Linked DNA regions of Homo sapiens. Changing the gene in region 2 together with the main gene of any one other region gives a genetic interaction. Each region holds a gene or a part of one and is shown on either strand. Other genes may lie near its edges. The genes, in order: KRAS and RNF40.

Region 1 (3,918 bases), on a different chromosome or scaffold from region 2:
TAGAAGAATCATCATCAGGAAGCCCATAAATTTGTGTTCCCTCAATGTTTCAGTAAAAACCAATTAGAAGGTCTCAACTGAAATTAGTAATTAATCCATTTATGTGACTAGATAAAACACAGAATAGGGATGATTCAAAAGCTTCATTAATTTGTTTCACACCAACATTCACAATTGGTAAGAAAAATAAGAAGTAATCAACTGCATGCACCAAAAGCCCCAAGACAGAAATCTTAGGTATTCAGTTTCTTTTTCACAGGCATTGCTAGTTCAAAAACCAAAACTCTGGGAATACTGGCACTTAGAGGAAAAAAAAACTTCCACTGTCATTTTAAAATAAGCATTTAAGGTAAAAGCTAACAGTCTGCATGGAGCAGGAAAAAAATTAGGTAATGCTAAAACAAATGCTAATAATTTAGTGTAATGTACAAAAATTACCACTTGTACTAGTATGCCTTAAGAAAAAAGTACAAATTGTATTTACATAATTACACACTTTGTCTTTGACTTCTTTTTCTTCTTTTTACCATCTTTGCTCATCTTTTCTTTATGTTTTCGAATTTCTCGAACTAATGTATAGAAGGCATCATCAACACCCTGAAATACATAAAAAGTATTAAAATGTGAATATATACGATGGCTTCATGTGTACAGGTAACAAATTTCATTAATGGAAAAAATATTAAGAAAGGATTCTTTATGTTTCTCTTCAGGCAACTGAATATATATTACATATATTAGGACTTTTAGAATTCTTAAATGTCATCCGCATAGGTGTTTTGTCAATATTATAAACAGGAACACTAATTTTCACAAAAGACAAGGATAACCAATGGCACAGAATTTTAAATAAGGTAACGACTTTTTCACAGGAGAACTTAATTTGCTACTATTTTTTCCACATTGGCAAACCTAAGTCATCAAAATCCAAATGCATGTGTGTGTGTGTACACTTAATTGTCCTTATGTTTCTGGACTTTAGATATAAGCCATGCAACTGTAAACTATGTTCATATATCTTCACACACAGTAACAGTATTTGAGCTCCAGTTCTATACTTACGTAAAATCCATTGGATTTAAAAATTTACCAAGAAGTAAACAGTATTCGAACATCCTATTCCAATAATTTATCAACAAGTAAACAGTATCTAAACATATTATTTCAGTTTTCAAATGATATATATTAAGGGATTAGTTTCAATTCATATATTTATCATTAAGAAAAAGGTTTAAAGTGACCCCAACACAGGAGAATACCACTTTAAAAAAAACACTAATACCTCAGATTTGTGGAGAAATTAGCTAAATCATTTGAAAGGTCTTATAGTTTACCAATTTGGAGGAGATTCTTTCTATCCCATAAAGTTTTAATTTCTGTTGTATTCAAAAGCTTGCCATATAAAGCCAAATATCCTGTCTTCAAAGAGTTTAACAGTTAGTCATTGTGACCACCATCTATTTATGATTAAAGCAAGGTTATTTAAATTTAATGGCTAAAAGCGATTTTAAGCCATAATACTTTTCAACCTAATAATCTACAGTGTGAAAAATGGCACTCTCAAACTGGTAGTAGATTTTAAACCTGCAGTACTTAAATTATGCAAGATCCATACACAAGTCAATTCTTGTCATGTCTCCAATTAAAAGAAAAATATAAATAAAAGCAAAAAATGAAGAAAAAATATGATTCTCTCTGTATTTTAAAGCCTGTTCAACTGAGTAGTAACTATAAAAAGAAAATCTGTTAACCTCACAATACTTCCAAACCTAGACAGCAGAGGGAGTCTTAGAAACAAATACCCAACACATTAAGTTGTATAAATCAAGCCACTTTAGGAACAATGAAAACTGGGTTTTTACTCATTGTAATCACTTTGTAGGATATTATAAACTGTGTAAATAAATGTATTAAAAAAATTATATGTGTAAAAATATTCAAGTGATATTATCTTGAAATTAATTTAAAATGTTAAGTGGGCGGGGTGCGGTGGCTCAAGCCTGTAATCCCAGCACTTTGGGAGGCCAAGACGGGTGGATCACTTGAGGTGAGGAGTTTCAGACCAGCCTGGCCAACATGGTGAAACCCTGTCTCTACTAAAAATACAAAAATTAGCTGGGTGTGGTAGCAGGTGCCTGTAATCCCAGCTACTCAGGAGGCTGAGGCAGGAGAATTGCTGAACCCGGAGAGGCGAAGTGCATTGCAGTGAGCCGAGATAGCACCACTGCACTCCAGACTGGGTGACAGAGCATGACTCTGTCTCAAAGAAAAAAAAACAAAAAATGTTAAGTGGTATTTCTCCTTTACTGTACTACTAAGATTAACGATATTTCAAAATAAATCTGGAGCATGAACAATGAAAATTAGCTACAGTTCATGAATTTTCCTAATAGATCTATAATTCAAGAAAGCGTGACCAATATTTTAAGAGAGGTAAACATAGAATGGGAATAAGAGGCTAGTCCACATTAAGCAAACAGTAGGATAAAAACCAGCATTATTTATTTGAGCACTAGTGAAAGTCTCCAATAAAGTCCCCAAACTGCACTCACTGATGTTTCCCACTCTCTAATATCATTACTGATACTACACAAACATATGCTTTTGTTTCTCCCACAGGAGAAAGGAAAAGTGGTAAGAAATAATTTATCAGCAATACAATACCATCAAGGTTTGATTACATATATGTATGTGTATGTATCCCTTCAGGCTAAACTCTTTAACACATATAGAGGGGAAAATTTCCAATGATACAATAAAAATTATTCTGTAGCTTGCCAGCACTTGACAATTTACTTGACAGTTTAGAATCATAAACCCTTAGAATGTGATAGAATCTTAAAAGAGGATCTAACTCCCTTACCCTGAATGAATAAATTCCCTCTGATCACATCCTTATGTAATCTACTCCATTTCTACTACTTTTACAATGAAGAAAAATGCCAATGGTACTAAAATGGTAAAGCAGAAAACAATGAAAAACCATGTGATGGACACAGAGAAGACACATTTTATGGTGAAAACACAGAATTTGAAAACATTACTTCCTAAGATTCTGACAAAGATTCTAGGCTTATGTTGCAATGAACTCTCCTCTCTACATCATCTTGTTAAAATTAAGTAATTTTGGCCCAGTGCAGTGGCTCACACCTACAGTCACAGCAATTTGGGAGGCTGAGGCAGGAGAACTGCTTGAGGCCAGGAGTTTGAGACCAGCCTGGGCAACACAGCAAGAACCTGTCTCTATTTTAAAAATAAATAAGTAATAAAAAAAAATTAATTAATTTCAATCGTGAAGGAAATGTCACAACCTACACAGAGCAATGAATTCTTTTTTTCTCATATGAGAACTAATCATTCTCACACATACACATAACATTATCTTTTTCAGGACTAAGAAAAGCTAATTTATATATGTTTATCATTGTCAAATTTTTATTTATGTATTTATTTCCTAAAGGTGGGGTCTCATTACGTTGCCCAGTCTGGTCTTAAACTCCTGGCCTCAAGCAGTCCTCGCGCTGTGGACTCCTAAAGTTCTGGCATTATAAGTGTGAGCCACTGTCCCTGTGCCAAAATTTTTTTATTTTTACTTTTTTTAAGAGATGGAGTCTCTTTCTGTTGCCTAGGCTACAGTGCCATGGCACCATCATAGCTCCCTTCAACCTCAAACTCCTGGGGTCAGGCAATCCTCCTGCCTCAGGCTCCCAAGCAGCTGATACTACAGGCACACACACCACAGCCAGCTTGTCAAATAAATTTTTTTTTAAATTGTATTTAATTTTAAATTTTTAATTACCAAGTATACTTCTCTTTTATATGAATTACTTCCACGTGTACTGAAAAACAAGGATTCGTCACATCAAACAATTGTGACATTCACCTACAGTCACTGTATAAAACATAATTTGCACAAAT
Region 2 (3,918 bases):
GGCATTAGGGGAATCAGGAAGGGGTGCCATCAAGATGCAGGTGGGGATGGACACCCCTTCAGTATGGGCACAAAGAACCCACCTCGGCTGTACACTCGCTGACAGAGTTCCTCCACCCGGCGCTGTAGGCGGTCTGAGGCCTCTACCACACGAGACACAGCTGCCTTGGAGAACTCCATTCGGCCTTGCAGCTCCAGCTCCACCTCCTCACTGCTGCTGGCACCCAGTGCCACCACAAAAGCCAAGGCCGGCTCACTGAGAGGGGGCCGCAGCTGCATCAGCAAGGGGTCTGGAAGGAATGGACAGACCCTCATGAGGATAAGAGCAGCAGTTACTACCACTCTGTACCAAGTTCCAGACTGAGCCCTTCAATACTCATGGTTCACTTAATCAACACAACCTATAGTGCACTATTATCTCCATCCTGAAAGTGAGACAAATGAAATTCAGGGAGGTAAAGTAATTTCCTCAAAGCTACAGAGTTGCGTATCACATCCTCAGGGAAGCTTCCTGTACTTTACCAATATAATTAGAATCACACGCACATGCATGCACACACAATCATTCCGTTTCAGGAGCCCCAGTACTTTCTGCTTACTATGTTTATAATTTCCTCCCTTATAGCAAGTGCAACACTCATTTCTAGGAAGCGTCAAATACATATTTAATACTCAACCATAATACTGTTTTGAAACAAATGGGTGTCAAAACATGAATTGCTCTATAAACCAAGTTAGTCAGAGTCTAAAGCCTGTGTTTTTGTGCACTGCACTTTACTGCCCAAACATGAAATCCATTTCGTGAGAAGTAGTAAGATAGGCAATTCAGGGGCCCAACACCAAAGTCCCCTCCTCCCCAGGACTTCTCCCAGAACTTAAGCTCCCCAGATCCCAGCACTCTGGTCCTACCTCTCAGCTCTGATGTCCCCGGCTCTGGGAGAGGAGTCCCATCACATGTTGGCCCCTCCTGGGTCCCAGGTGCCTCAGGCGCTGAAGACAGCTCCCCCTGGCTCTCATGGCATCGGAGAAGGGCTTCCACAGTTTCATCCAGCTGGAAGGAGAAAACATCAAAAATGTTATGAATCCCTTAGTGCTTTCCAACATGATACTCCTTTCCTAGCAGGGGAATCTGGGGATTGGCAGCTGAATCAAGGCCTGGTCTTTGAAAGCAGAAGGTATCCACCTGGGCCCAGTAGCGATTGACGATGAGGAGTGTGGCATCATCTGTGGCCTGCCGCTTCTCCAACTTCTCAATTCGTTCTCGGAGTTCATCTTCACAAGCCTGCCGTTGTTCCAGCCGCTCTGCCAGTTTCTTGTTCTTGAACTGTAGTACCTTCAGGTCCATCTCCTCCTACCAAAGGAAACAAAGGGGCCGACGAGAGCGTCAAGCAGGGCCCACAAACCAATCACAGAGAGAGAAAGAGGAGCAGAGCATCTGCAATGCATGGGAGATGGAGGTATTCCCACACTAACCGCTAACAGAATCTAAGGAGGCTCAGACAACACACAGCGAAAGTGTCTTTGTTGTGAGGAGGCTCACGTTGTTTCTGCCTGTCCCCTTGTAAATCCTTAGTCTTTGACAAGTCACACGCCCCCTGGAAACCTGTTTTCCTATCTGTAAAGGGAAGACAGGCGTCGTGTTCTGAGCTTCTTTCTAACCTTTCTTTCAAGGTCCTGTAACGCGGACCTTGCTAAACTTGGGGAAGTGGGTGTAAGATTCCGCACAGTTTGGCCAGAGAACAGAGGGAGGGCTCTGGGAAGTTCTGAGGGTTAAGGCAAGAGCCCACGAACCGTGGAAGAGATGCCTCCAAGACGAATGGGCTCGATAAGAGTCGTGGTGGTCTTCTCCTCACGACTCAGCTTCTTTTCCGGGGGCCCTGAGCCCCCGTCGCCGGCGGCGCGTTTGTTGCCTGGCCCAGACATGGCCGCGGCGGCTGGAGCGATGCAGGGTCCCCTGAGGGGCGTCAAACGGGAGGAGGCGGTACTTCCGTCACCTGCAGAAGACACAGAGCAGAGATGTGGGAACGGCTGGTGTTCCACAGCCCCAAACACCCTCCACCCTGCACACACCTGCTGGATCCCGTCCCCCCCGGCGCCAGAGCCCTCACCAGCAGGAGGGTCAGCCTAGCGCCGCCATCTTGGATTTCACCGGACGTCACTGGGCGTCACTGGACGCCACTGCCCCCCCCCCAACGGTGCGCAGGGCGCAGGCGCCAAAGGCAGCCCCGGATGTGAGGAAACTTCTTTATCTTCTGCTTCTATTGGTTACGCTTGGTCCCGCCACTCGGGTCCTCTGGCTTCTTCCCAAACACCTCCTCTTTCTCTCGGTGATTGGCCAAGAGGCAGTTCCCATAGTAACTGACACCGCGCTCCCACTTCCCAGCCTGGAGGACAGCACCGGCCCTCGTATTAGCAACCTGGAAGAGAGGGCGCCCAGGTGGGCACTCGCAACTTCTCACGTATCTGCGCGTTCTCTTCGCTCCCACTGGCGTGAGCCTGCGCTTTCCGCCTTCCTTCCCTCACAAGCCCCCTTGGCAACCGTCGCCGTTGAGACGGAGGGAGACGCCCCCACGGATTCGCCCCGCCGCGCCTCTCCGCGCGTAGATTGGCCGGAGCGAGGCGAACGGGCCCGGCCTTGGTAGCCGCCGACCGAGCGCTGGCTGTCCTGGAACCTAGGCGGCGGGAGCCCGGGGCGCCTCGCGGCACGGAAGAGCGGCGAGATGCTCAACCGCAAGACCAGCCACTTTTTGGGAATGAGGGTGCAGTCGGAGCTTGAACATCTCTCCGAGCTGCGGCGGGAAGCGGGGAAGGATCGCAGCTCAGTGCATGGGTCGGCCGCGCGGACGCGTGCGAGTGTGCGGACTCAGTGGACGACGGCGGCGGCGGCGAAAGCGGATGAAGACCCCGGAGCCAACTTGTTTCCGGTGAGGGCGGGACAGTCTGGTCTGCTCGTGAATATTTATAAACCGGCTCCCCCGCAGGCGCCACCTGTCATTATGCTTACTAACGTTCGGGACGTCTCCCGGGCTGCTTGGGCGAGGAGAGGCAGGGGTGTGTGACCCCGGTGGTTACTGTGCTCGCGTAGAGCACCTAGGGCCTGCTGAAGCCCTCCCTCGCCCGCGCCTCTCCTTAGTCCTTGAGATGAGATGGCAAGTTACAGCGGCTTCTCCGGCCTGCTGGAGATTCGCTACGGGCCAGGACACCGCAGCTGCCTTCCCCAATTCGCTTTCTTTCCGCAGCCGCCGCTGCCCCGACCCCGGATCTGCATGTGGTGAGTGTGAAGAGACAAAAATTACACTGAATATTTGCGTTCTTTATTGTCTCCCCAACAGTCCTGTCTGTGGCCAGGGCATCCCCATTTTACAGATGAGACTGAGGCCTGGAGATGCAATTACTCCAGGTGACTGGAAGTTGGCTTTCCAGCCTCTCCAGTCCAAAGAGGAGGCAGTGTGAGAAAAAAAGAGCCAAAGACAGAATGTAAATGGAGTCTCATGGCCGCTAAGGAGTATTGTACAGAGGGGGACACTGAGGGCCACAGGGAGTACTTGACCAAGGTCATACAAGGTAGTGGCAGAGCAGAAAAAAGAATTCAAGATTCCTAACCCTAGGCTTTAGAAATGGAGAGGCTCATAAGAGTTCATTTAGGCCCAGAGAGTTAACGATTTGCATAGTCACACAGCAAGCTGGCAAAAGAGCCCAGCTTCACGCCGGTGGCCAACTCCCAGTCTCACGCACTAGCTGTCACAGCCTTGTCATGATAGGTAACGGCCACCAATACTCTTTTTCTTTTACTATAACAGGAAGTACCTGGACGTCCATTCCATGCACCAGCTGGAGAAGACCACCAATGCTGAGATGAGGGAGTAGGGACTGAGGGGGGCGTGGGAAGAGCTCTTGGCAAAGGCTGAGGGGTCAGGTT

The links.
Region 1: changes in RNF40 (region 2) and KRAS are lethal when combined (synthetic lethality), as found in Homo sapiens cells (3 studies listed by BioGRID, with this or other methods).

Annotation. Positions count from the first base shown.
Region 1 is NC_000012.12:25,209,315-25,213,232, forward strand, and holds part of KRAS (GTPase KRas), read right to left. Parts: intron 2,865-3,918; coding exon of another isoform or gene 2,864-2,864; intron 598-2,863; coding exon 481-597; 3' UTR 1-480. UniProt on the Homo sapiens protein: Ras proteins bind GDP/GTP and possess intrinsic GTPase activity. Plays an important role in the regulation of cell proliferation.
Region 2 is NC_000016.10:30,760,550-30,764,467, reverse strand, and holds the start of RNF40 (E3 ubiquitin-protein ligase BRE1B), read right to left. Parts: upstream 2,147-3,918; 5' UTR 2,108-2,146; exon of another isoform or gene 2,070-2,107; intron 1,994-2,069; 5' UTR 1,923-1,993; coding exon 1,791-1,922; intron 1,351-1,790; coding exon 1,183-1,350; intron 1,051-1,182; coding exon 909-1,050; intron 290-908; coding exon 83-289; intron 1-82. Other genes in the region: CFAP119 (cilia- and flagella-associated protein 119), read left to right, coding at 2,720-2,923, 3,239-3,270, 3,800-3,862.